Linked DNA regions of Homo sapiens. The protein of the gene in region 4 purifies or fractionates together with the protein of the main gene of each other region. This does not show direct contact. Each region holds a gene or a part of one and is shown on either strand. Other genes may lie near its edges.

Region 1 (4,066 bases), on a different chromosome or scaffold from region 4:
ATCCTAGCCCACACCTCCACCCAAAAGTAGGGAAGATAGATGTAACAGAAATAGCCAAAATGTTTATGAGGTTAAAACTGGGAAAGGAATGGAGTTGTTTAGTGGGTATAGAGTTTCTGTTTGGATTATGAAAAGGTTCTGGAACTAGATAGTGGCAATGGTTACACAACACTATGAAGGTACTCCATGCCACTAAATTGTACACTTAAAAATGGTTGAGGCTGGGCGTGGTGGCTCATGCTTGCAATCCCAGCACTTTAGGAGGTCAAGGCAGGAGTATCCCTTGAGGCTAGTTCAAGACCAGCTTAGGCAACAAAGGGAGACCCTGTCTCTATTAAAAAAACAATTATTTAGCTCAAGCAGCAGTTCTTTACATTTGTGCAGTCTCTGAAGAAGGCCAAGATGTAATCCTTTGGTCCTATTCTGGCCTGGAGGGCCACACCTTTCTTCCACTCAGCAGTCCCAGAGACTTAAGAGCTGCTGTATCACTGCTGCTGAGGCTTCTTTCGAAGGTCCTCACTGAAGCTGCTCAGCCCTTCCTCCTAAGATGAAGTTTCAGAGCCTGGCCATCCCCACTATCACCTTCTTCTTCATAGGCTCCAGTGTGCTGATGCCTTAAAATATGGTTCCCAGAATGGTTCACAATATTCCACATTTATAAAGCAAAGACCTATACTGATCTCACAACAGGTCTTTGTGTTAATACAAACGAAGGCAGGGGCATCAAACTACATTACTCATGCTTTCCCACCATGCACTTGAAGTATTTAAAATAGGAAGAAAAATCACAGCTTCAATTAGGAATATCCTTGGTAAAGCAGTAAAAATGAATCGTGACCCACTTTTTAGTACCCTATGTTATGAAACACGCAAAGCACTTCTGCTGCATACACAAGCATGATGGCTGCTGCAGGAAAAGCACTTGAGCTACAAGCTGAACTAGCTGTTCTTTCTATAGAACAAACTATGGTTAATTCAGACATGGGTACTAAGTTTTTTAAAAATGAAGTTAAGTCTGTTCCTTGAAGTAAAAGAACAGTATTTGGGTTTTTTGTTTTGAGACAGGGTCTTGCTCTGTTGCCCAGATTTGAGTGCTGTGGTGCAATCACTGCTCACTGCAGCCTCAATCTCCAGGACTCAAGTGATCCTCTAGCCTCAGCCTCCCAAGTAGGTGGGACTATAGGCATATACCACCACACCAGCTAATTTTATTTTTGAAAAGACCAGGTCTGGACATATTGTCCAGACTGGGCTAGAGTGATCCTCCTGCCATGGCCTCCCAAAGTGTTGGGATTACAGACATGAGCCACAGCACCTGGCCAAAATAACAGTATTTGTTGCCAATGGTAAAATTTAAGCTTTCAAGCAAAAAAGAGTTTCGGAAAACCTGTATCCATCAACATAAGCCTGACAGTCTTTCAATACTCAGAGACTTTTCTAACAGCTATGGTGAATGTGACTTTGATACTGTATAACAAAATGTACCAACATCTGGAACATCTGCATGGCTCTGCCTGGCTCAGTGAACAGGTCCTTTCCAAATCACCAACACCTTACAAATGTATGCACTGGTAAAGGATCCAGTCGGAGTACAAGATAAAGTGACTTTTTTTTTTTTTTTTTGATACAGAGTCTCACCCTGTCGCCCAGGCGGGAGTGCAGTGGCGCAATCTGGGCTCACTGCAAACTCCACCTCCCAGGTTCAAGTGATTCTATGGCTTCAGCCTCCCAAGTAGCTGGGACTACAGGGGCCCACCACCATGCCCAGCTAGTTTTTGTGTTTTTAGTAGAGATGGGGCTTTGCCATGTTAGCCAGGCTGGTCTCAGACTACTGACCTCAGGTAATCCGCCCGCCTTGGCCTCCCAAAGTCCTGGGGTTACAGGAGTGAGCCACCGCGCCCAGCCAAATGATGAACTCTAATGTAAAAGTATGAAGAGTTTATTGATAAGGTTTTAGGTTTCACATTGCAACTAACCTTCATAGAAACTACTGCTTATTGAGTTTTGGTATAGAATCAAATATGAATATCCAGAATTATTTGATTACTCCTCCCATTTCCAACTATTTATCTGTGCAAGGATTGAGCTGCTCCATAAAAGTCAACCAAAGCAACACATTCCAAGAGTGGAGACAGATGCAGGTATGAGAATCCAGCTGTGTTCTATTAAGCCAGACATTTAGAAGGCTCCAAAAATGTGAGTACACAGAAGGCTCCAAAAATGTGAGTATACATGAAAGACAGGAGAAGAATGTGCAGAACAAAGGGAGGTGACGGCCCCCCTAGCCCTGAACTGGAAGGCCATGCTTAACCAGAGACTCATCAACCGTGGAGCAGCCACATACTTGAGCTCCTTCAGAAGGTCCTGATCAAGACGGAAAATCACATAAATCATGACGTGGGGAAACTTCGAAGAACATTCGACTTACACAAAAGAAGTCTTAGACGTACATACAGCTGCCATTAGGTTCTATGAAAATGATGCAATCACACTCATTTCATGCCCGGGTGTGCAGGTCTAATCAGCATGATGTAAAAGCAACCAGGCGACAAATACTCTCCTGAACCTTCCAGGGGAAGCTGGAAGCCAGAGTGTGATCCTGGAAAGACATTCAGAGTCTGCTTTGTACGTTCTAAGCTTCCAGGGAGACTCCTTAAAATTGTGAAGTCTTTCCAGAACACTAAGCTTAATTTTTCTTTTTTTTTTTTTGGAGACAGTCTCTCTCTGTCGCCCAGGCTGGAGGAGTGCAGTGGCATGATCTCAGCTCAATGCAACCTCCGCCTCCCTGGTTCAAGCAATTCTCCTGCCTCAGCCTCCCAAGTAGCTAGGATTACAGGTATGTGCCGCCACACCCGTTTTGTATTTTTAGTAGACATGGGGTTTTGCCACGTTGGTCAGGGTGGTCTCAAACTTCTGGCCACAAGTGATCCGCCTGCTTCGGCCTTCCAAAGTGCTGGGATAACAGGCATGAACCACTGCACCCAGCCACAAAGCTTAATTTCTAATAGAAACATAAATTGAAGGCTGGGTACTGTGGCTCACACAATGAGCCTTGGGAGGCTGAGGCAGGAAGATCCCTTGAGCCCAGGGGTTTGAGACTAGCCTGGGCAACATAGAGACACTCTGTCTCTACAAAAAAATACAAAAATTAGCTGGGCATGGTGGCGCACCCTGTAATCCCAGCTACTTGGGAGGCTGAGGTGGGAGGATGGCTTGAGCCTGGGAAGTCGAGGCTGCACTGAGCTATGATCCTGCCACTGCACTCCAGCCTGGGTGACAGAAGGAGAGCCTATTTCATAAATAAATACATGTTTCTAACTCATATGTGGGGAAAACGAGGCTCAGAGAGGTGAAGAAACTTACTTCAGATCACACAACTAACACATGGCTGAACTGATGAAACTCTGGTCTGCCTTATTCCAAAGCCAGGGCTTTTACATGAACCGTCATGCAGAGACCTCTTAGCAAATCCAAATATTTCTGGTAACACTTTTCATAGAGGATAATGGTTTGGAACTAAGCAATGGAACACTTGGAGTGAAGAAGGATAACAAACCTAAACGACTTGACATTTGACATGTAAACAGCATTTTAAAATAAGCTTTTCAATAGCTTTACAGGCCCTAGCATCAGTGAAAACTAGCTGTAGTTTTTATACACTGCTTTCCTTCCTATTACATACAAATCTTAAAATATGCTCAGAGACAGGAAGTAGAATGGTGGTTGCCAGGGACCTGGGGGAAGGAGGGCAATAGGGAATTACTATTCAAAGGGGACAGGGTTTTAGTTTTACAAGCTGTAAGAGTTAAGGAGCTGGATAGTGGTGATGGTTATACATTACGAATACACTCAATATCCCTGAAATGTATACTGAAAAATGGGTAAAGTGGCACATTTTATGTTATGTATATTTTACCACCATAAAAATTTTGGATAAAAATATGCTCAGAAATTTAGACAGACATGCTAAGTTTAAAGATTCAAAGGTTAGAATTCTAAACTCCTAGGCTGGGCGTGGTAGCTCATGCCTGTAATCCCAACACTTTGGGAGGCTGAGGCGGGAGGA
Region 2 (4,066 bases), on a different chromosome or scaffold from region 4:
TTAGGGCAGGAAGGGATAGGCTAACTCTACCGTACTGAGCAAATGCAGTCAGGTTTATGATAAGGACTGCCCTTATTTATAAAGCTTTTAACCCCAGGGCCCAAAGGAAAAAGATAAACACCAGCTGCCTGTCTTCTGGTTACACAAGAAGAAGACCTGGACAATGACAGACCCCCTTCTCTGAATTGGTTCCACTCATGCTTTGTCCCTAAAGTCAGAAAGTACCTTGCTAGTAAAGGGGCTGCCCTTTTTTTTTTTTGGAGACAGTCTCGCTCTATCCCCCTAGCTGGAGTGTAGTGGCATTATCTTGGCTCACTGCAACCTCTGCCTCCCTGGTTCATGTGATTCTCATGACTCAGCCTCCTGAGTAGCTGGGATTACAGGCGCCTACCACCACGCCCAGCTAATTTTTGTATTTTTAGTAGAGATGGGGTTCTGCCATGTTGACCAGGCTAGTCTCGAACTCCTGACCTCAGGTGATCTACCTGCCTCGGCCTCCCAAAGTGCTGGGATTATAGGCATGAGCCACCGTACCTGGCCAAGGGGCTGCCTTTAAAGTTCTTTTGACTTTAGACACTGTCCCTGGCCACCCAGAACCCAGGAGTTCAACATGGAAGGTGTCAAAGCAGTCTACTTGCTCCCAAACATGTTTCTAATTCAGCCTTTAGATCAGGAGTCATAAGGACCTTTACGGCTCAATAGAGATGATACTTTGTGAAAAGAAAATGTCAACACTGTGGAAGAGAACCCCAACAGAGAAAATATCATGAAAGTTTTAAAGGATAACACACTGAAGAGGCCATCCCTTCTTTTTCATTACAGAAAAAGTTATGAAAGCCATCAAGGCTGAAATAATAAATTCCTGTTGGAGGAAACTCTCCAGATGTTGTGCATGATGTCACAAAATTTGTAACAGAGCCAATCAAAGAAATCATGAAAGAGATTGTGGATATGGCAAAAAAAGTGGGATGAAGGGTTTCAAGATACGGACCTTGGAGAAATCCAAGAGCTAATAGCCACCATATCAGATAAATTAACAGAAGATGACTGGATGGAGATGAGTGCTTCCAAACCAGTGCCAGACGATGTGGAAAAAGAATGTAGAACTAGCAGTGTCAGAAAACATATTGGTAACAGACTATCTGGTGGAAGGGTTCTGATTACCCAAGACTGCTTTTGATTTCTTTTATGACATGGATCCTTCTCTTACATGGGCACTGAAACTATAGCAAACGGTGGAAGGAAGATTGGTAATGTATAGAAACATTTTTAGAGAAATGAAAAAGCAAGTCAGACAGAAATTAGGCTGTATTTCGTAAAGTTACATTGAGTGTGCCTCCCTCTTCTGCCTCCCCTTCTACCTCTGCAACCTGACCCAGCAAGACCAACCCCTTTTCTTCAGCCTAGGTAATGTAAAGACAAGGAGGATGAAGATGGTTGTGATGATCCACTTCCATTTAATGTACAGTAAACGTATTTTCTCTTCCTTATGATTTTCTTAACATTTTTTTCTCTAGCTTACTTTATTGAAGGAGCACAGTATATAATACAGATCACAGACAAAACGTATGACAATCTACTGTGTATGTTATTGGTAGGGCTTCTAGTTAACAGCAGTAGTTAAGTTTTTGGGGAGTCAAAAGTTACACATAAATTTTCAACTGTGGGGGGAATCAGCAACCCTAACCACTGTGTTGTTTAAGGGTCAACTGTAGTTCTCAACTCTCTTATTTTAACTTGTTTCTGCCATAGTTAATTACAAATTCAATTTCTACAAATATATGACAAAAAATTGAAATTTGTGTATCCAAACTTGTGAATTATCCAAATTTATTTTAAATACAGTGTGTTAAGCTAAATATTCAACGTTAACCTTAATTTTCCTGATATATATCCAAAGACCTATTAAAATTTTATAAATAATCATTAAGCTAAAAAGCACTAATATAAAAACCTACTCAATATGGAATACACATTTTTAAAAAACTATCTATTAAATATCTAGATTTTATGAATTCGTTTAGTTGTAACTACCACTTGTTGATCAACACACTCAAGTATTTTGAAGGAACTCTTGTGAGACTGGGAAAGTATACTTAACTAATGGAATATTATTGTATAATGATATAAATATCTGAAAATCCTTTCTTTTATAGAAATAAAAAAATTTCAAAAACCATTAAAAAAAAAAGAACCCAAAACACCTTTTTTTTTTTTTTTTTTTTTTTTGATACGGAGTCTAGCTCTGTCGCCCAGGCTGGAGTGCAGTGACGCAATCTTGGCTCACTACAACCTCCGGCTCCTGGGTTTAAGCAATTCTCTGCCTCAGCCTACAAAGTAGCTGGGATTACAGGTGCGTGCCACCATGACTGGCTAATTTCTGTTATTTTTAGTAGAGACGGGGTTTCACCATCTTGGCCAGGCTGCTCTTGGACTCCTGACCTCATGATCCACCCACCTCAGCCTCCCAAAGTGCTGGGATTACAGGCGTCAGCCACCGTGCCTGGGCACCAAAGGAAACTTCTTACCATTAACTGCTTCAGAGTCAAGTTCACCTGACTACATCAGCTGTATTATATACTACAGTCTATGTTTATGTATTTTATGTCTCTGCCTCCTTCAGTCTGTTTATAAATATAGGCTGAGTATATGTTCTTATATTGAATGCTTATTATATAGCAAGGATGTCCATATGAAATAAAGAACAGTAGTTCAGCCTTTGCAAATATTTAAAGTGCTTCCAATTTGACATTATGTACAGCATTGTAGTGAAAATCTTTGCATGTAAAATCTGGTCCAAATTACTACTTCTTTGAGATGTTCTTCACTTGTGCACTTTCTAGACACTTCTTTAAACACTTGACAATGATTTAAAGATAAATGAGTAGGAGAAATAATAGGATATGACAACTCTATACTCAACCATAACAAAAAAATATCAGCAACAGAAATGGGCTGAGCACTAACTCCTAGCACTAACAGAAGAAAAATAAAGGAATGGAGCTAAAAGCTACAAGCACTTCTTCATACCTGTTAAGTATTCAAGTTCTTGAGATAGTCTCTCATTGGTTCTAATTAAGTCTCTTTTCTCAGCTTCTAATTCTTCCTTTGTTCTTGTAAATTGGCTCTGTCATATAAAGAAGTAATAAGTAAGAAAATCAAGTAGAGCAATACAGGAAAGCGAACATAGAATTGTCACTTTAGTTAACATCAGCTGTAGTGTAAATGACTGGCTTTCTCTTATAACTTACACATCAAAGTTAAAAAATACCCGTAATTCCAATGTTTCTATTTAAATTTTGGATTTTTAAAACATTTTTACTAGGCTTATGAAAATTTTTCTCATATCTCTTTTAATCACATGGAAATGTCCTAATAACTTAGAATATCACTGTATTTACACCTTAGTTCAAATTATTTTTCAAGAAAGATTCCTAAAAATTGAATTACTTAAAACTTTTAATATATTTTGTCAGCCAGGTGCAGTGGCTCATGCCTGTAATCACAGCACTTTGGGAAATCAAGCTGGGCCGATCATTTGAGTCTAGGAGTTCAAGACCAGCTTGGGCAACACAGCGAAACCCAGTCTCTACAAGTAGAAAAAAACAGCCAGACATGGTGGCACATGCCTGCGGTCCCACCTACTCAGGAAGCTGAGGTGGGATGATCATTTGAGCCCGGGAGGCAGAGGTTGCAGTGAGCCAAGACTGCATCACTGCACTCTAGCCTGAGTGACAGAGTGAGACCCTGTCTCAAAAACAAAAAACTTGTCAAACTGCTTCCCAGCAAAACAATGGCAATCTACATGTTTTTGAGTTAGAAATATCTATCTCAAGCTACCTATGTCAGAACTGTAGGTTGCCTTTTAATATTCTTGTTTCCTGTGTAGAAGCTTTTTAGTTTGATGTAGTTCCGTTTATTTCTTTTTGCAGCTTGAACTACTGATGTGATCCAAACAATCATTACCAAGGCCAATGTCAAGAACCTTTCCCCTATGTTCACTTCTCTGAGTTTTATGGCTTCAGGTCTTACATTTAGATCTTTCATCCATCTTGGCTTGATTTCG
Region 3 (4,066 bases), on a different chromosome or scaffold from region 4:
CGTGATCACAGCTCACTGTGACCTCCAATTCCTGGGCTCAAGTGATCCAAGTATCTGAGACTACAGGCATACGCCACCACACCTAGCTAAAAAACCAACTTTTATACTACATCTTTTTTTGTTAAGAAATTACATATTGTGCACTGTTGTTAACTAGACTAAATGATATACATATATGAATTATCTAGCACAGTGCCTGGTAGGAACTCAATAAAGGATGGCCAGTGTTATTCGTACAACAGAATAGGGAAATAAATACTAAAAACCGGCCGGGCGCGGTGGCTCACGCCTGTAATCCCAGCACTTTGGGAGGCCGAGGCGGGCGGATCACGAGGTCAGGAGATCGAGACCATCCTGGCTAACACGGTGAAACCCTGTCTCTACTAAAAATACAAAAAATTAGCCGGGCGAGGTGGCGGGCGCCTGTAGTCCCAGCTACTCCGGAGGCTGAGGCAGGAGAATGGCGTGAACCCCAGGGGGCGGAGCCTGCAGTGAGCCGAGATTGCGCCACTGCACTCCAGCCTGGGCGACAGCGAGACTCTGTCTCAAATAAATAAATAAATAAATAAATAAATAAATAAATACTAAAAACCAAAATGTTTCTTTTTGAATCTTTTCCCCAGTATCCTCAAAGTGTTTTACTTTACTATTTGGGCATCTTTTGAGTTTGAGTTTTGGTGGCTAGAGGGTTTTTTGTTTGTTTGTTTTCCTTCCAGGAAACAGGAGATGATCTGCCCAGAGTCATCAGAGATGAATATAAACAACTCTGTGTCTCCTGACTCTGACTCTGAAGCTTTATCCCACTACTGATGGTACTTTACTGAATAAAGACAGTTCTGCAGAGTCAAAAAACATCTACCATTGCTCAGTAAATATATTCATGGTTGATATACCACAAGTATTTCTTGAGTGCCTAACAAGTGCCTGTCTGCTATGTCAAAATTATAATACATTCAAGAAGGAAGAAATCTAGCAACATAATTCCACATGGTTTAATATTAAGTAATCATTATAGATTCTAGAATCAACCTACCATTGAGGTGAGAAAGATAGTCAATATAGGCCAGGACATACTCTGGAATGTCTCCATATTTTTTTAGCCCCAGCTCAAAAATCTTAAAGGCAACAGATTTGTCCTACAAGTAAAGAAAGTAAAGTACAGATTTCCATGAAATGTCAGATAAAAAACACTTGAAAGAATATTAAAATTATACCTACATATGACAAAATATGTAAGAATTAAAACAAATTAAAATCATGTTAAGTAAAAATTGCTGAGCTAGAAACTATTCAAAGGAGTTTAGTGATTAGAAATCACGAAATAGTGATTAATATAGTGATTAATAAAGCACAAATTAGAAATATAGTGATTAATGAAGCATAAATTAGCAAGTAGTTGGGGATTTGGATGATGCTCCATAAAATTTTACACAGATACACTTAGACTGCCTTTACAAAATGGAGCAATAAAAGCTTAATGACAGAAGCTAAAATCACCTTTCTTTTACGAACCTCAGATGAAGGAAGTTGTTTTATCTTTACACTTGTATTTCAGTATTTACCTTACTACAGTAATATTCCATGAGTGCTGCAGTAACATAGACATGGTGGCGGGTTCTGGTATCTTCTCTTGCTTTTTTAAATATCATTCTTCCAGATTTGATGCCTTCTGCTCTCCGTGCAAATTTCATATATTGGATATATACCTATGCAAAAGAAAGTATTTGTGTTCTATAAATTAGACAGTATGTTTCCTGCATAAGAAAGCAATCCTCAATACCCAATAAATTAGAAAGTAGGAATTTAGATAATATTCTATTTAAATCCACAAACTAATTTTTTTCTGGTATTAGAGATGCATGCAAATTAATTTATTTTTTTATTGAGACATAATTCACATAGCACAAAATTCACCCTTTACAATTCAGTGGTTTTAAATATATTCACAAGGTTGTGCAATCATCACCATTATCTAATTCTAGAATATGTAAATTAAAGTTTAAGAGTGAAAAGTGTGACACTACTAGAACATACTCCATTAATGAATGTCAATATCTAAAAAACTCAAGGGTTGGTTTAATACAAGCACGTCTTACAATACATGTTTTTTTTTTTGAGACGGAGTCTCGCTCTGTTGCCCAGGCTGGAGTGCAGTGGTGCGATCTTGGCTCACTGCAACCTCTGTCTCCTGGGGTCAAGCCATTCTCCTGCCTCAGGCTCCCAAGTAGCTGGGACTACAGGCACACGCCACCACACCCGGCTAATTTTTGTTTTTTAGTAGAGATGGGGTTTCACCATTTTAGCCAGGCTGGTCTCAATCTCCTGACCTCGTGATCTGCCTGCCTCGACCTCCCAAAGTGCTGGGATTACAGGTGTGAGCTACCGCGCCCAGCCTGCAATACATGTTTAACTTCACATTTTCTTGGTTTCTTTTTAAAAGCCCACTACTCTATTTTCCGAACAACATATAATAGAACTTCATGGATAAACTATGAGCCATTTTATACCTAGCACCTACAGAGTGTCCAGTACATCATGAGTATGCAGTTTTGTTTAGTGAACAAATGACTAATTAGTAGGGTCCTGGTTTGCCCAGTATTGATAATGTCTAGCTATATTACCCAGTTTTGATGGATGGATGGATGGACTATGAGTTCCTCAAGAAAAGGAATTTCATCTAGTTTGTCATTAATGTTGCTGGAGTCTAGCACAATGCATAGACTCTAGCAATATATTTGCCAGATATGTTTGTGGAATGAATTATAAGATGATGAATAAATGTAGGAATTATAGCAGTGGAATCCCAATATAAATCATTAACAAGAAAAAGTAGTGTAGCTATAATTGACTTGAGGCAGAGGTTCTAGAGACACACCCACAAGCCTGTCCCCTTCCTCTCCCAATGGGAGAGCATCACTGCACTTTTGCACTTGGGGCTTTGAAAACCACTATGATAGAGCAGGATTTAGCATAAAGTGAGTTTCAGTCTAATTTCTTCCCAGGATGTCGGTTTCTCCCGCCTCATTTAAAAAGAAATATCTATTAAGCAACAATTCTGTGGCATAAAGTGACTTCAAACCATGATCACAAAGAAAGTGTTAGAGAAAGTGCCTCTGTATCTATTTTATACTGCTGCATTAAAAAGAAAAAATTCTAGCAGAAAACAGATCAGTAATTGTCAGAGGTAAGGGCAGAGGGAAGGGTTATATCTACAAAGGGGTCACATGGGGGAATTTTTGGAGGATGGTGGAGGTGTTTTCTATCTTAATTGTGGTGGGGATCCCATACTCAATGTTATTTGTCAAGATTAATAGAACTATACAACAAAAACAGTGAATTTTATTGTATATAAATTTAAATTATTTTTTGTTAGATAAGACTGTAAAGGTGGAAAAAAAGATTTGTAAAGTTACTCACCAAGGTAGGGTCAATATCCTCAATTGCCAGAAGTCTGTTATATATACTGTGAACCTTTTCATACTTCATGCGACTCTAAGGTGGTACAGAAGAAGTGAGTATCAACATATGGTCATAAATAAGCAGGATTTGAGCTCCAAGGAATCCAAAGGCTATAACCTCCCACCCCCAATGGCATCTCCATTGAGCATAAATATAGTATAAGCTGACAACTAATAACTGTTCATTTGGCATCATCTCTGTCTACCAAAAGCAATATGCCTGGCAAACAAGCAGCCAGAAAAAAAGTTCAGTCCTGCACTAAAAAATTGAATTATAAGAAGGCTCTAAACATTTTTACTTACCTCTTCATAATCTGCATATGCAAAATAAAGAAGCATATTCTTCTTCAATAAAGTGCTTATGGCTCTTTCATATATATTAGCAGCTTCATCACTAAATAATTTGGCATTATTCATATCCTGGTAGAAAAAAAAGAAAGCTCATCTTCAATAATTTTAATATAGTTGTGAGAGAATAAAATTAATAAAGTTACATCTACTTTATTTTATTTATGTGTCTAAGAAAGCATACATGTATGTACACACATATATATGTATCCACACACACACATACATAAACACATATGCATTTCTGGATTCTAAAAAAA
Region 4 (4,066 bases):
GCCTCCTGAGTAGCTGGGACTACAGGTGTGTGCCACCACCCCCGGCTAATTTTTATATTTTTAGTAGAGACGGGGTTTCGCCCCTTGGCCAGGTTTGTCCCGAACTCCAGACCTCAGGTGATCCACCCGCCTCAGCTTCCCCAAGTGCTGGGATTACAGGTGTGAGCCACCGTGCCCGGCCTAATTTTTGTATTTTTTGTAGAGATGGGGTTGCACCATGTTGCCCAGGCTGGTTTCGAACTCCTGGGCTCAAGCGATCTGCACGCTGTGGCCTCCCAAAGTGCCGGCATTATAGGCATGAGTCACCACACCCGGCCTCCTCACATAATTCTTAAGCCCCCTGTCATTTGGGAGCCATGAGCTAGACTAAAAAAAGAACAAAAGAAGGGTCTTGATGCAGGTATATGAACATTTGAACTATTCATCGTCTTTAAGACCAGTACCAACTCCTAGTGGTGAAAAGGGTGATGTGTGGAGAATTCTAGAGTGTTCTCACCTTAGGGTGTCTCCCTTTGGTGTTTAATATGAAGCCTCTGGAACCTTCATATTTGTTAATGGAGAGTGGACTTATTTGGGTACCTCTCAGTGAAGAGGCTGGGTTTGACTGTCAGGTTCATCTCATGGAGCGATGCCATCTACTGGTAATGCCTGGCTGGAGGGAGCTGCCTGGAAATGCAGTTGGATGGAAGTATTGTGCTTGATTAGTGATGTCTGCCATGAAGGTGGAAGAGGGTGGTGGTGTTAGTGGTTATAGCCATTCCTATCCTAGTTCCACAGCAACAGGCTGGAGAGAGTCTTTTTTGTGTGTCTCTCTTTTTCTTTCAAATGTGACTAACTTGAGGGCAGGGGCTGCATTTTAAATTTTTCTGCCCCCATGAAGTGTCTAGGACAGGGCTGGGCAGATAGGAAGTGTCTACCTGACATCCAAATAGTCCATTGTAAGTGGGTGTTGAGGTGCTGGGAAGGTATCAGCTCCCTTTCTCTCCCTTTGCAGATGGTGTCTATGAGATAGGCGGCCTCGTTCCCGTCTGGGTCGTGGTGGTGATCGCAGGCACAGCCTTGGCTTCAGTGACCTTTTTTGCCACATCTGACAGCCAGCCCCCCAGGCTTCACTGGGTAAGAAGCCCGGGTTCTCCGAGATGGGGGGGGAGGGATGCTGATGTCTCCCACACAGATGTCCTGTCTGCATCTCTGAGGCACTTTGACCAGTTTGATCAGGAGTCACACAAAGACAGGTAACCGAACTTTAAAGCTGCTTTTGAGAGTGTTTGTATCTATACAGGGTTTTTTTCTTTTTTTTTTTGGTAATAGCTTAATTTTGTTGAGATGTAATTCACATACCATACAATTTACCCATTTAAAGTATACAATTTAATGTTTTTTATTATAGTTACAGAGTTGTGGAATCATCACAATCAATTTTAGAGAATTTCATCACCCCAAAAAGAGACCTCATGCCCATAAGTCACTCCCCATTTCCCCACCCCCCACATAGCCCCTGGCAACCACGACTCTACTCCGCGTCTCTATGGGTTTGCCTATCATGGACATTTTATATAAATAGAATCCTACAATATGTGATTTCCTTTTTTTTGAGACAGGGTCTCCCTCTGCTGTCCAGGCTAGAGTGCAGTGGTACAGTCATAGCTCACTGCAGCCTCGACCTCCTGGGCTGAAGCCATCCTCCCACCTCAGCCCCCCAAGTAGATGGGACTACAGGCGCAAGCCACCACGCCCAGCTAATTTTTGTATGTTTTTTGTAAAGATGAGGTCTCACTATGTTGCCCAGACTACTCTCAAACTCCTGGCCTCAAGCAATCCTCCTGCCTCGGCTTCCCAAAGTGCCAGGATTCCAGGCATGAGGCACTGTGCCCAGCCTTGGGTTTCTAAAGACACTCCAGGGATAGAATGGGATGGCCTTTGTGGGTGTCTTTTTCCATTTTCCCTAGTCTAGGCACTCTAAAGAATATTTAGGGGTTTGTCCAGAGACTTTTTCCTTAAAAGTTTACTTAAATTAGCTGGGCGTGGTGGCGGGCACCTGTAATCTCAGCTACTCGGGAGGCTGAGGCTGGAGAATTGCTTGAACCCAGGAGGCAGAGGTTGCAGTGAGATGAGATCGCATCATGGCACTTCAGCCTGGGTGACAGAGACTCCGTTTCAAAAAAAAAAAAAAGTTTACTTAATATTTTCATTTTGGCTGGGCGTGGTGGCTCACGCCTGTAATCCCAACACTTTGAGAGGCCGAGACGGGTGGATCACCTGAGGTCAGGAGTTTGAGACCAGTCTGGCCAACATGTCGAAACCCTGTCTCTACTAAAAAATACAAAAATTAGCCAGGCATGGTGGCGGGCACCTGTAATCCCAGCTCCTTGGGTGGCTGAGGCAGGAGAATCGCTTGAACCCAGGAGGCAGAGGTTGCAGTGTGCTGAGATCGCGCCACTGCATTCCAGCCTGGGCAACAGAGTGAGACATCGTCCTAAAAAAAAAGTTTACTTAAAATTTTCATTGTTTAGTGCTTAATGATTTTTTAAAATTTTAGTTTTTACTTTTGGAAACTCAATGAATGTACCAACCGAAGGGTGTTGAATTTTCAGCAAATGGATCATTTAGGGAAGTTGCCTTTTACTACTTAGGGAAAATTGTCTTTCACTGTTTTTTCAAGTACCGACGTGTGCCACAACATGGATCACCCTTGAAAACATGATGCTGAGTGAGAGAAGACTGTAGCAGAGGATCACACACTGTGGCATTCCATTGATGTGAAATGTCCACGAGGCACATTCAGAGAGACAGAGAGCAGAGTAGTGGTCGAGTTGGGCTGGTGGGGTGGGGCTAGGGAGTGACCGCTAATGAGTACAGGGATACTTATTGGGATGATGGGTGGTATTTGGTTCATAGACTGGAAATCTGATGAAAGTGATAAGGAACCCTTTCCAGACAAAATAATATTTTTTTTTAGTATATGAAAGGGAGGTTTTTTTGTTTTTATTTTTTTTCTTTTTTCGAGACAGAGTCTCACTCAGTCGCCCAGGCTAGAGTACACTGGCATGATCTAGGCTCACTGCAACTTCTGCCTCCCGGGTTCAAGCGATTCTCCCACCTCAGCCTCTCGAGTAGCTGGGATTACAGGTGTGTGACACCAGCCTGACTAATTTTTGTATTTTTAGTAGAGACAAGGTTTCACCATGTTGGCCAAGTTGGTCTCGAACTCCTGACCTCAGGTGATCTGCCCGCCTCGGCCTCCCAAAGTGCTGCGATTACAGGCGGTGAGCCACCGTGCCCGGCCTGAAAGGGAGTTTATTAAGGAAAAAAGAAAATAATATTGAACTCACGTTTTATTGAGCACTAACTTTGCACAGGCACCAATGCATATAGTAACGTGTTTTATACTCATAATAAGCTCATGAGGTAGATACTGTTATCATCCCGTTTCACAGGTGAGGAACTGAGGCTGTGTTCCTGTTGGGGCTGGCCTTGGTCCCACAGCAAACCATTCCCTCCGCAGCTCTTTGCTTTCCTGGGCTTTCTGACCAGCGCCCTGTGGATCAACGCGGCCGCCACAGAGGTGGTGAACATCTTGCGGTCCCTGGGTGTGGTCTTCCGGCTGAGCAACACTGTGCTGGGGCTCACGCTGCTGGCCTGGGGGAACAGCATTGGAGGTGACTCAGGGCTGGGTGGGGTTGAGTGGGGGTGAGTGCGGCCACATCTTAGCTCTTTCCTCCCCCAGCCAGAGTCGCATCTGGGCAGGAGTGTCCAGGGTGTCTGCCCTCTGCACCTGTGCAGTGTCCCCTGTCACTGTGGAGTGGCCAGCATTGGGGTGAGATGGCCCTGACTGCAGTTGGACCAAGAAACTCTATAGAGGCCCCTGCCTCTTCCCCACCCTCTGATGCGGGGATGGTCGGTGGCTCCCAGAGTTCAGGCAGGACATGGAGCCCATTGCAGCCGGCCGTGCTTGATGTGTACACGGGTGTGTGACATGCAGGCATTCACACTTACATACATACACCCTTCCCTAGCTGTAGCAGCCAGGTGTGGTTGGCCAGGTTATGCACTGCTCCAGAGCATC
Region 5 (4,066 bases), on a different chromosome or scaffold from region 4:
GGAAAGTCCTCCAGAAGGCCGTGTATCCTCTGAATCAGCGTCCAATATAAGGTACTGTTTCTCCCATAGCCAGGATTCACAGGTCCAGGAATCGAGGGGTGGAACTGGAAGTGGCACCACTCACCATCACCCCTAGTGATCCACTAGCAAAATTTTTGCTTCCTCTCCTGCAACATTATGTTCTGCTGGCCTAGAGGTCTTAATTCCAGAGGGAAGAATGCTGCCACCAGGAGACACAACAATGATTCCATTAAACTGGAAGTTAAGATTGTCACCTGGACACTTTGGGCTCCTCCTCCCTTTAAGTCAACAGGCTCAGAGGGGGAGTTACAGTGTTGGCTAAGGTGACTGACCCAGACTATCAAGATGAAATCAGTCTACAACTTCACAACGGAAGTAAGGAAGAGTATGCATGGAATACATGAGACCCATTAGGGCATCTCTTCGTATTACCATGCCCTGTGATTACTGTCAATGCAAAACCACAACAGCCAAATCCAGGCAGGACTACAAATGATCCGGACCATTCAGGAATGAAGGTTTGGATCACTCCACCAGGAAAAAAACCCATGACCTGCTGAGGTATTTGGGGAAGGCAAAGTTAATACAGAATGGGTAGAAGAAGGTAGTCATCAATACCAGCTATGACCACGTGACCAGCTGCAGAAATGAGGACTGTAACTGCCATGAGTATTTCCTCCTTCATTTGTTAAAAACATGTTTGTGTATGTATACACATGTACTAATATCTTCACTTTATATTTCCTTTTCCTTTATCATGTGACATAAGATTTATTGATTTCATAACAGCATTTAAGTATTATTAACTTTATGTAATAGTATTTGGGTTGGGGATTGGTGTGTTTCTGGTTGTATGAAGGATAGTTTTATTACATTAGGTGTAATTATGACCTTATTATTGTCTTTATTTTAAGATTACATACGATCTCAGATGTATATGGGTTCAAGTTGACAAGGAGTGGACTTGTAATGTTAATACTGTCAACTTGATTGGACTGAAGGATGCAATATTGATCCTGGGTGTATCTGTGAGGGTGTTGCCAAAGGAGATTAACATTTGAGTCAGTGGGCTGGGGAAGGCAGACCCACCCTTAACTGGGTGGGCACCATCTAATCAGCCACCAGCGAATATAGAGCAGGAAGAAAAACATGAAGAGATGGGCCTAGCCTCCCAGCCTATATCTTTCTCCCGTGCTGGATGCTTCCTGCCCTCGAACATCGGACTCCAAGTTCTTCATTTTGGGGACTCGGATTGGCTCTCCTTGCTTCTCAGCTTGCAGACAGCCTACTGTGGGACCTTGTGATCACGTAAATCAATACTTAATAAACTCTCCTTTGGAGATATATCCTATTAGTTCTGTCCCTCTAAGAGAATCCTGACTAAAACAAGTAGTGTGGGGCTCGTGACAAAAACTGATAGCTTTGCTGCCAAAGGGGCTCCTGTGGCATGACAGAGCTGTTGTCCACAGCAAATGCCATCTCACACTACTGGAATTATAAATTCCACTATTTGAATAACCACTGCCGAATTCAGGATTTAGCAGCTTTTCTGAAGGAACCATAAATAGGAATTCAATGGTTCCTATAGTAGGAACTGGACTTGGTAATCCCAGCCTGTAATCTCCCAGCACTTTGGGAGGCCAAGGCGGGTGGATCACTTGAAGCCAGGAGATTGAGACCAGCCTGGCCAACACAGTAAAACCCTATCTCTACTAAAAATACAAAAACAGAATAACTAGCTGGGCACTGATTTTTATTATTTAGATGGTATGCACCTGTAATCCCAGCTACTCAGGAGGCTGAGGCAGGAAAATTGCTTGAACCCAGGAGGTGGAGGCTGCAGTGAGCCAAGATCACGCCACTGCACTCCAGCCTACGTAACAGAGCAAGACTCCGTCTCAAAAAAAAAAAAAAAAGTTCCTATAGTAGTAGTGGCACACCTGTGACCCATTTACAACAGACGAATGTGGGTGGGAAGCCCTATTCTATGCTCGTCCAGCCTACTTTACATATAAAGTATTATTGTAACTCCAGATCATGACAGGGAAAATGCTGAGAAATGAGTTCATTAAAGAGCTTTTAAAAGCCTAACAGATTATAATGTCAAAGGGTTCCATGAAAAGCAACTATTCAGTTGCTTTTACTATTCGGTTATGCCATTTCCCTATTCTATCTCTGACAACTATTATTAGTAGTTATCCTTTGGGAGCTGTTATGAACCAAAAACTAAAAAGGACGTCTGTAACTAGTTTTGATAGAGGCAAGAGGCAAACAAATGTCTAGGCAGACAGGGGCGGGTCCTCAGTGAAACCCGAACTTTAATCCGGAAACTGTCCTGGGTAAATCCTGAGATCGGATTAAGAACCTGCCTTCCCGTTTGGCATGATTGATCCCCATCCTTCACCTATTTAACCTGTACCTACCCTTTCCTAATTGGTTTTCTACACTGTCCTGCCCACCTTGGAGTGGTGTCTTCGCTTTGACCTTTTTTGCATACTCACAAACCAATGACCACACACTCCCATTCTGAACCAATAAAGAGCCCCAGGCTCAGCCATATTACGGAACTTTCCTGTCTTCAGGTAGTAGAACCACCTACCATGTTCTCTCTTTTTGCTAAGAGCTTTCCTTTCGATTAATAGATTCTACTCCACTCACTCTTTGATGTCCACGTGCCTAATTCTTCCGCTCCTGAGATAAGAACCTGGACCTAGTTGAGCTAAGGAGCAAAAATCCTGCATCAGTTTCATGGTCAAAGAGAACTTAAAAGGACATCTGTGCCATCCTTAACAACATACCATAAAAATCCAAAATTTAATTTTCCCCAGAAATACATAATGACATAAGATGCAATCTACTCAAATCTTTTCCTCATTTAAGGCACAGGGTAAAAATACAGTCAAAAACACCAATACATTTTAAATATCATTTATCAGAATGCAGATTATCAAAGGGCAGCTTTTATCCATTGTAATCTTTCCCCTATCCAACCCTCAGCACCCCCACCCCGCCCCCAGCCACACACTCTCAGATGACTTCCTGGGCTGCATGTGGTTCATGGAATATGAACAGTAGCTGAAATTCAGCCTAAGAGGGTAAAACTGATAGAAAATTATACAATTGGAAAGTGGGAAGGTCATGAAGCTATGAGCACATCTAGCTAGCCACTTAGCATCTGTATTTCATCAACAGTTAAGCTATTCTTTACTTGTCACCACATAAATAGAATATGATTTTAAAATACACACACACACCCCCTTATGGAAAATGATCCTAGAAAGGTAATGCTAGTGTCATCTTTCAAGTTAAAGTACTGTTGTTTTTTTTTTCCCAGAAATCCCCAGTTTTCAATAAATTAAAGCGATTATCCAATTTTATAGTTATTTTATTCTGAAACATGTATAAGTACAATACACTCTTTAAATGCTCTATAGATGTTAAACTGGTTCAAGTATTCCAAAATTAATTTTAATAAATTCATGTATGAATTTCATCTCACACAGAATCACTTGAAGTTACTTACTATTCGGTTATGCCTTAAATGCTTAGTTACATATTTTATGGATAAAAGGATATGACACTATTATTTTCAAATCTGGATGTTCAGGAGGATCAAAAAATGAACCCTTGTGAATGAGAAGCATTTACTCTAAAAAAAAAACCTCTCACTGACCAATTGACCATTTATACTATTCCTCTTCTATCCATACAGATAATAAAGTTAACTTTAAATAGATTTGTGAGTAAGAGTCAAGAGAATTTGAAAGCTGGGTACAGAAGTCTGTATGCTTTACTGAAGCACCAGTTTAATCTGACACTCACTGTGGCCTTGAATGAGTCACCTTTCAGGGCTGAGTTCTCTAATCTGTAAAATGAGAGTGTTATGTTAAATGTTTACTGAGGTTGATTATTCTATCAGCTACTTGTAATTCAGCTGCATCATTTCAGTTAGCTATAAATAAACCCCCTAAGACCCTCAGTGTGAATATGAACAACTATCATTTCATATTATTTCATATATCAAGTATTCTCATTTATAATTGGG
Region 6 (4,066 bases), on a different chromosome or scaffold from region 4:
GTTAAAATTAAGATAAAATTTCCAAACAAAGTATCTATCCAAAGGGCTACAATAGGCTGGGTGCAGTGGCTCACACCTGTAATCCCAGCACTTTGGGAGGCTGAGGCAGGCAGATCACTTGAGGTCAGGAGTTCGAGACCAGCCTGGCCAACATGGTGAAACCCCATCTTTACTAAAAATACAAAAAATTAGCCAGGCATGGTGGTGAGCGCCTGTAATCCCAACTACTCGGGAGGCTGAAGCACGAGAATCGCTTGAACTCGGGAGGCAGAAGCTGCAATGAGCCAAGATCATGCCACTGCACTCCAGCCTGGGTGACAGAGTGAGACTTCATCTGAAAAAAAAACAAAAAACAAAACAAAGGGCTACAAAAAATTAGAGAATGAAAGCACTTATTTATTGGCCTGACCTATTATATTTCAGGTCAAAATTCTTTCAATACCTATAGTAGAAAGTATCCTGGCATCCATCTACAGTATTTGATTATGCCTTAATACTGGTATCTTTTCTCATAGTGTACAGTAAATTAGTGATACACTCACTTGTTTCACCTTCTCCTCAAAGTCAGCATCATTATGGTCCGAAATCATCTGTGCAAGTCTAATTTGTTCTGCAGTGGCCTAGGAATTGAGATGAGATCAAGAAAGCATAATCATGAGGCAACAGTTTAGAGAACAGGAACCTATTTCGTCAGCCTCCACTGCCCCAATTTTCTTTTCCTTGTAACAAATGAGCAAGTAATAAAGCACCATTTAGGACGCTTAATGGGGGATCAGGGATAGGTGCGGGTGGTGGCTCACGCCTGTAATTCCACACTTTGGGAGCCCAAGGCAGACAGATCACCTGATGTGAGTAGTTTGAGACCAGCCTGGCCAACATGGCAAAACCCCGTCTCTACTAAAAATACAAAAATTAGCCGGGTGTGGTGGTGCACACCTGTAGGTCCAGCTACTCGGGAGGCTGAGGCAGGAGAATTGCTTGAATCTGGGAGGAGGAGGTTGCAGTGAACTGAGATAGTGGCACTGCACTCCAGCCTAAGTGATAGAGCAAGACTCCACCTCAAAAAAAAAGATGCTTAAATCAGTAAAATGACAAAAAATTGAGTGAAACTGTTACAGAAAGAGTAAGGAACTCATTCACCAATCTTCACAGTTAAAGGGACTTCCGTCTTAGAATCACAGAACCGCTCTGAAACATCTGCCCCTTAATTCATATTAAGTCACAAAGCCATGTGTAAACTCTATTCTTATTTCTGTAATAACCAACGCCATCCTCTTATTCCTAGAGCTTAGAATACAAGTCTGACAATAGACTCAACACATCTTCTATATATCCAGTGTATGTTCAGATACTAGGAATTTTACTGCCCCAACTAAGTATTATAATTCTACTAGAAATCCACTTGAAAACACAGATGAAAGAAAAATGCGTAAGGGGGATGTCCTAATCTTACATATTCGATTTATCTGACCATAATCAAATATAAGTAATTCATTCACATTACATACCAACTAACATCAACCTGGTATGAGAAACAGAATATATCTACATCAAAGTTAATATCCAAGAGGTTAATTTACTCTTTAAAACTTAAAATTGAGCAATGCTCTAAGGTGTTTCATTTAATTTTGAAGAAACATAGTGAAGTTGCCAGCTCCTCATGGGAAAGGAATAATCAGGTAAGGTCTCAATGGAACCAGAGAGGAAAATAAAAGACAAGTTGGGGAAAAGAGGAGCAAAGGATAAAATCTGGAATGGAAAAGGCTTGCTAGAGAGGTATCAAGGTGGGGCAGGGCACAGCGGCTCATGCCTATAATCCCAGTACTCTGGGAGGCCGAGGCAGGTGGATCACCTGAGGGCAGGAGTTCGAGACCAGCCTGACCAACACGGTGAAACCCTGTCTCTACTAAAAATACAAAAATTAGCTGGGCATGGTAGCACACTCCTGTAATCCCAGCTACTCAGAAAGCTGAGGCAGGAGAATTGCTTGAACCTGGAAGGCAGAGGTTGCAGTGAGCCGAAGTGGCGCCATTGCACTCAAGCCTGGGCAACAGAGCGAGACTCCGTCTCAAAAACAAAAGAGAGAGATATCAAGGTGGAAGGTCTAAGAAATAGAAAGGTATTGCTAAAATGGCCCAGGTAAGAGAAGGGAAATGCTATCTTAAGAGTTATAGAGCCGGGCAGTGACTCACACCTATAATCCCATGAGTTCAAGACCAGCCTGGGCAATGCAGCAAGACTACCATCTCTACAAGAATTTTAAAATTAGCCTGGCATGGTAGTGTGCACTGGTAGTCCCAGCTACTCAGGAGGCTGAGGCGGGAGGATCACTTAAGCCCCAGAGGTTGAGGCTACAAATGAATGGTGACTGTGCCACTGCACTTTGACCTAGGCAAAGGGAGCTCCTATCTTAAAACAAAACAAAAAAAAAAAAGATAAAAAGCACAGGACCCATAATAAAGTGCTAAGCCTCATAATACAGTATTAAACAACAAAAAAGTAAGCATCTTGCCTTACAGCATGTCATGAACAGTTATCAGGACCTAAGTAAAAAAAGAGCCAAGGACTAGAAAACAAAAATAAGGAACCTAAACCAACAGTTCAAAGCACAGAATGATGCTGTACTGCATGGAAACCAGTATCAGCAGGCAACGCTATCCATGAATCCGTATGCCTTGGATTATTTACCTGTGGCCGCTGCTTGTGCTGTGTCTGGTTTTGGTTTTGAGGTTGTTCCCAGTTTCCCCGGGCTCGGTTAGTGCCCACCGATGTCATCATTTACAGTATATACAAATAACAGTATTTACAAGGTAGAATACTGAAAGATTTAAAAGAAAATTAGGTATTAAATGTGGGCAAAATATGTTTTTAACTCTCTCATCAGCACCTTCACCACCAAACACTTTCACTTCTTCAAAGGAACAAATCAATAAGATTCATTTATTCTTACAACATAATTAGCTTGATAAATTCCTTAAGGAGCTATGGCTGTTAATCCATTTTTATGTAACAAGAAATGTATAAAGCATGTGTAAGTGATGGATTTTTTTAAGAAGTTACAGCAGTTTGGTTACTAGTCCCCCATAAGCAGACTTTACATTTAACTAATAATCAAAAGCCTTTTACATAGATGCAAGTATCTGAAGTACCTTTGACAGAAGGAAAGATAATCAGTAAAGTCTGGAAACAAAAACCTTCCAGGAAGGAGATTAGTCTACACTCCAGAGAAATAATTTTAAATACTGTATTCAATCACCTAAGAAAACAGCCTTACCTGCCTTACAACCTTTTTTATGTAAGCTGCATGTGACCTCCATTGCTTGGGAAAGGACAAGTTCAAGTCTAGACTCTTCTTTGTCCCTCAAGTTTCATCTCTCTCAGTATGCTATGGGTTTGTTTTGTGTTTGTGGGGGTTTTTTGTTTTTTTAAACCACAGCCTTCAACAGGGTACGTATTAGCCCCAATGACTTTGTCCAGAATCTCTGTTCTCTGGAAAATAATTCCAACACACTGCTTTTACAGGTGCTTCTCTTGGTCTCCTAGTCCACATTTTCAAGAAACCAAAATGGCAATTACCCTCCACCACTCACCTTAATATACAGGGAATCTCAAATTTGTCTCAAACCAAAAGCATCTAGCACAAAGTTTTATTTGGAAGAAAGTGCTTCTAAGAAATCATTTTAAACTTGAGACCTTAATGCTGGCAAGATGACTTAGTTGAGTCTTTAAAGAGACACAGAACACACAGGGCCTTCCCCAAACCAGAATATAGTTTTTGTTACAAGACTTCTAACAAGGAAGGATTCTACTGAATTCAAGTTCCTTTAGTTCATACTTTGTTTTATAATACAATCTCAGCTGCTGCATTTAGTAAAAAAGAAAACATTAATCATATGATAGAGTGTTCAAAATAATAGGTTACTCTGCATTTATTCCCTTCCAAAGAGGGTAAGTTTATACTTTTCTGCTCTATATTTAATTTTTCTTGTTAATGAAACCTTATACAACGTAATTCTAGACTGCCCAGAGATATTACTGGATTTGAGTGGGAGGAAGGACTTCTAAA
Region 7 (4,066 bases), on a different chromosome or scaffold from region 4:
TCTGTTGTTGGCTCTGGAAATGAGCTCGTAGCCACTGAGGCTGTGGACACTGAGGCCACACCCTCCATATGAGAGTACGTGTCTTCTGCTACGCCCTCATCAACAGGAGTAGCTGACTTGTCTGAGACAGTACCTTCAGAAATGGACATCTTAGTGTCTTCTTTAAAAGATCCAAACTGACTGACATCTATTTGTGTGGGAGAAACATCTCCTAATTTCCTTTCATCCAGAGCCAGTGCTGGTTGAGAACTCATGGCTTCAACATCATCAGTTTTCTTTTCTTGGCCAAAGTCTTCTTTTATTGGTGCAAAGTCTGTGCTTTTCCCTTCCTGTTTGTCTTGGTAAAGACTAGTAGAAGTCATTTCAGAAACTGGACTTACTTGGTCTGGAGAGCCTTGTTTTCCACTCTTTTCTTCAAAAGGACTTTCGGCACCTCTGCCAGAAGCCTTGTCATCAGCACTTAGAAAACTTTCATAAGCAGACTCGGATCCAATGAGGGGCGGGCTGCGTAAAGGAGACAAAACTTTTTCAATAGGAGACTCTGAGTCAGGCACGGGCTCATCCATGGGGCTTACTGAAGCCCTTTCATTCTCATCTTTGGCATCACTGAATTCAAAACTCACTGGAACTGCTGGTGGTTTTTCAATGACTTCTGTAGGGAGATGACTGGATTTCTCGTCAGTAGGAGATTGATAGTAAGGTGTGTGACCAGCACTGCCAGTCACGGACTGAGATGGTGACACCACTTCCAGAGTCTTGTCCTCAGGACTAGCACAATGTTCTTCAACTACTTCTTGGGTCACCTCAGGAGACACCGGGGCTACTTCTGCCTCTGCAGAGACTTTAATCTCATTGGGCGTCAGAGAGAAGTTCACACTACGTTCACCCAGGGGGGTCTTTTCTAAGGGTGATGGTGGAGATGGACTCAGGGACGGGCTCTTCGATGGGCTGACCTTTTCACTTGAAACAGCTGAGATGCTATCTTTGATGTCCAAAGTGGTGCTGGCTTTCACTTCAGAGCAGTAAGCATCACGTAAAGCAGATCTGCTGAATTTGTCTTCCTCCATGGAAGAGGGTGGTGATATGGTAGAGGCTGAAGCATTGTAATCCTTGCCATCAGTGGCATCTGTTTTTGATCCTTCAGAAAATCCGTTGAGCGGTGTAACATCAGCAGGTTTAGAGTATTCCTGAGAATACAATGAAGATTCATATTTGGTGATATTTACGAATTCCTGAGAAGGGGACTCCGTCTCTTCATTGTTGGTCTCATCACTCATCACGTCTCGAGGGGTAGACATCTCATCCATGGGGGTGGGCTCACTGGATATCTCAATAGTAGACTGAGTGTAGCCAGAGGTGGCAGTGAATTCCTCAGGCTGGTCTTCTCGATTCTCCTCATCAGAAGCGGTGGCCTCGCTCTCTGAGCCTCCAGGTAAAGTCTCATCATGAATTGAAGATGCAGGTTCTCGGCCAGGAGACTGGGCTCCTAGTTGCTTGGTTGGTGTGGTGAGGAATCCATACTGCTCCTCGGCACCACCAGCCTCTGCAGCCTTGTCGACCACAGCCATCACATAGTCTTCAGCTTCCATTTTTTCCGGCTCATATTCCTCCTCTCTGGCATCTTCAGCTTTGTCCTCCTCATCAGCCTCCTCTTCAGATTGTTCAGCCTCTCCTTTCTCAATGGCCTCATCCATGTCTTCTTCGGCTCGGTCATCCCCACTGGCCACAGACTCCCTCTTCTCCCTGATGTATGCATCAGCCTCCGCCTTGGCACTTTCCTCATCCTCAGTGGGGCTGTGCTTGGAGGCGCTCACACATACGTGTTCCTCCCCATCCTCTTCTGGCTCCTCAGCCTCCTCAGTTTCTGCCTTCTCTTCATAGTCTCCAGTCTCTGAAGATTCTTCAAAACCGGCTCCTTCATCTTCAAATTTTTCAATGTCGTCTACTCCCTGCTTCTCGACGGGCTCCAGCTCCTCAGGTGTCTGTTCACATTCGCCCTCCCCTTCAGTGGTAGTGATTCCCTCATCAGGGGACTCGGCAGGACCTTTGGTGACTTCTCTCTCCTTCTGGATGACGTAGGCTTCGACTGGCTCAGTTTCCTTCAGTTTCTCTTCGTCTTCGATTAGCTCCAGCTGAGGCTTGATGTCCTTTGTTACATCGACCTCTTCAGCCTTTAACTCTTCAAAGTCCTTGGTTAGATCCTCAGGAGATGACATAAGGGACCTCTCAGCTTCGAGTTCTTTGGCAGGGCCAATGGCTGCTATTCCAGCTGCCGCCATGACAGCTGCTGTGGTGGCTCCAGTGCCGACAGCTGCAGCGACAGCCTCTGCGGCCTTGCCTTCCTTCTTAATGACTTTTATTTTCCCCTTCTCCTTTGGCTTTCCGGCAGCAACAGAATCTTTCTTGACAGACTCTTCCTTCTTGGGTACTTTTGGTTTTAAAGCAGCTGGTTTTTTTGCTTCAGACAGAGGAGTAGATGATTTCTTTGCGTCTTTAGGGAGCTTCTTAATTTCTTTTTTGGGTTCCTTTTCTTCCTTTTTCACTTCCTTCTTCTCTTCCTTCTTAACTTCCTTCTTGACTTCCTTTGGCGGTGTTTCTTTCTTAACCTCTTTCTTGGGTTCTTTTTTCTCTTCTTTCTTGATCTCTTTTTTGACTTCTTTTTTCACCTCTTCCTTTTTTGGTTTTTCCTCCTTCTTGATAGGTGTTTTGTCCTCCTTTTTAGCCACTTCTTTCTTTGGCTTTTCTTTCTCCTCTTTCTTGTCTTCAGGCTTTACCTTTGTTTCCTTTTTCACCGTCTTCTCCTTGGCAGCTTTGGGTTTGACATCTGTGGCTTGCTTCTCAGCCACCTCGGCTTTCACTGGAGATGGCTCTTCTTTGCTGGGAACCTCCTTTTCAGTCACTGAAGGTTTGGTCTCTGTTTTTATTGGCTTGTCTTTTTTCACCATTACCTTTTCTTTGCTTTCAACTTTGGGTGGCTTTTCCACGTGATTCACTTTTGTGACCTCAGGGGTTTCTTCTTTTGACTCCTTGCGCACGGATTTGCTAGGAAGTGGTTTTGCGGCTGGCTTCAGACTTTCTCGGCTATCAGCCCTCTGTTTCAGTTTTGTTTGTTTCACCACAGGAGTGGGCACCTGGCCAGTGAGATCCTTTTGGGTGGCCAGTGGCTGCTTCAGAAAGTCTAGATGTTTGAGCTTTTCCAACCCTTCCAGGATGTTGTACTGGGTGCTGTTCCCAGGAAACAGGACTCGGATGATTTTCTCCGCAGGGTTTGCTGGATGCCACACAATCAAAGATGAGACTGAAGTTAAGTAGGAAATCGGGAGATCTACTTCTTGACCATTAGGCAGAATGAATTCAGCCTTGTCTTTGTTGGTACCAGTCCACTGCTGCATAAAATACTGCATTTCCTTGCTGCTCTTGACTGGATTAAGCACATACATCTCAAGTTTACCTACTCCCATTTTTTGGAAAAGAATGACAGGATCAATAGTATTGCCTACACTTCTAAACAGAGGTTCTGGTTTCATGGACAATTTGTTTAGGTACTGGAGAGTGAAGCAGGCTTCTTCTATGCTTCTCTTCATCTTGATGTTTGGCTCTGGATTTTTGAGATTTTCAGGTACATTGAGAAATACAACTCCTAAGTCAGGGGAGATGAGGTTTTTCATCCAGTCACTATTTGTGGTGGAGCCCTGGGACTGTTCTTCCTCGAGCTCTGCAATTTTCCGCTGTAACATGCTGTTTATTCCAGGCAAATTGTCATCCCCAATGTGGGTGAGCAGGATGGAGTCCACTCGGTCTAAGTGTCGGATGAGCTTCCAGAAGCAGGATTTTCTCTCTGATCCGCCATTGATGAGCATATTGAAACCATTCACTGCAAACAAGGCAGAATCGCCCCTCCCTCCTGGAAAAATATAACAGCAGGGCTTGGAGAGCTTCAGAAATCCACCCGATGTGGGAGGTTCCAAGATGTCAAAGGGAGATGGGACTTCCACTGATTCTGAGAGATACTCGGTAAACTCAGAAAGTCCTTCCATTTCTGGCAAGATAGAAGCTGAATTGAGTT

What was found.
Region 1: the proteins of SLC8B1 (region 4) and EIF4H purify together in Homo sapiens (affinity purification with mass spectrometry; one large-scale study listed by BioGRID and IntAct). This does not show direct contact.
Region 2: the proteins of SLC8B1 (region 4) and TPR purify together in Homo sapiens (affinity purification with mass spectrometry; one large-scale study listed by BioGRID and IntAct). This does not show direct contact.
Region 3: the proteins of SLC8B1 (region 4) and CSTF3 purify together in Homo sapiens (affinity purification with mass spectrometry; one large-scale study listed by BioGRID and IntAct). This does not show direct contact.
Region 5: the proteins of SLC8B1 (region 4) and MAP4 purify together in Homo sapiens (affinity purification with mass spectrometry; one large-scale study listed by BioGRID and IntAct). This does not show direct contact.
Region 6: the proteins of SLC8B1 (region 4) and UBAP2L purify together in Homo sapiens (affinity purification with mass spectrometry; one large-scale study listed by BioGRID and IntAct). This does not show direct contact.
Region 7: the proteins of SLC8B1 (region 4) and MAP1B purify together in Homo sapiens (affinity purification with mass spectrometry; one large-scale study listed by BioGRID and IntAct). This does not show direct contact.

The regions. Positions count from the first base shown.
Region 1 is NC_000007.14:74,177,189-74,181,254, reverse strand, and holds part of EIF4H (eukaryotic translation initiation factor 4H), read right to left. Parts: intron 1-4,066. UniProt on the Homo sapiens protein: Stimulates the RNA helicase activity of EIF4A in the translation initiation complex. Binds weakly mRNA.
Region 2 is NC_000001.11:186,364,856-186,368,921, forward strand, and holds part of TPR (nucleoprotein TPR), read right to left. Parts: intron 3,128-4,066; coding exon 3,031-3,127; intron 1-3,030.
Region 3 is NC_000011.10:33,095,273-33,099,338, forward strand, and holds part of CSTF3 (cleavage stimulation factor subunit 3), read right to left. Parts: intron 3,879-4,066; coding exon 3,762-3,878; intron 3,493-3,761; coding exon 3,418-3,492; intron 1,707-3,417; coding exon 1,563-1,706; intron 1,137-1,562; coding exon 1,034-1,136; intron 1-1,033. UniProt on the Homo sapiens protein: One of the multiple factors required for polyadenylation and 3'-end cleavage of mammalian pre-mRNAs.
Region 4 is NC_000012.12:113,307,284-113,311,349, reverse strand, and holds part of SLC8B1 (mitochondrial sodium/calcium exchanger protein isoform 1 precursor), read left to right. Parts: intron 1-994; coding exon 995-1,116; intron 1,117-3,505; coding exon 3,506-3,659; intron 3,660-4,066. UniProt on the Homo sapiens protein: Mitochondrial sodium/calcium antiporter that mediates sodium-dependent calcium efflux from mitochondrion, by mediating the exchange of 3 sodium ions per 1 calcium ion.
Region 5 is NC_000003.12:48,009,632-48,013,697, forward strand, and holds part of MAP4 (microtubule-associated protein 4), read right to left. Parts: intron 3,887-4,066; exon of another isoform or gene 3,844-3,886; intron 1-3,843. UniProt on the Homo sapiens protein: Non-neuronal microtubule-associated protein. Promotes microtubule assembly.
Region 6 is NC_000001.11:154,223,836-154,227,901, reverse strand, and holds part of UBAP2L (ubiquitin-associated protein 2-like), read right to left. Parts: intron 2,819-4,066; 5' UTR 2,779-2,818; coding exon 2,689-2,778; intron 621-2,688; coding exon 543-620; intron 1-542. UniProt on the Homo sapiens protein: Recruits the ubiquitination machinery to RNA polymerase II for polyubiquitination, removal and degradation, when the transcription-coupled nucleotide excision repair (TC-NER) machinery fails to resolve DNA damage.
Region 7 is NC_000005.10:72,193,993-72,198,058, reverse strand, and holds part of MAP1B (microtubule-associated protein 1B), read right to left. Parts: coding exon 1-4,066. UniProt on the Homo sapiens protein: Facilitates tyrosination of alpha-tubulin in neuronal microtubules. Phosphorylated MAP1B is required for proper microtubule dynamics and plays a role in the cytoskeletal changes that accompany neuronal differentiation and neurite extension.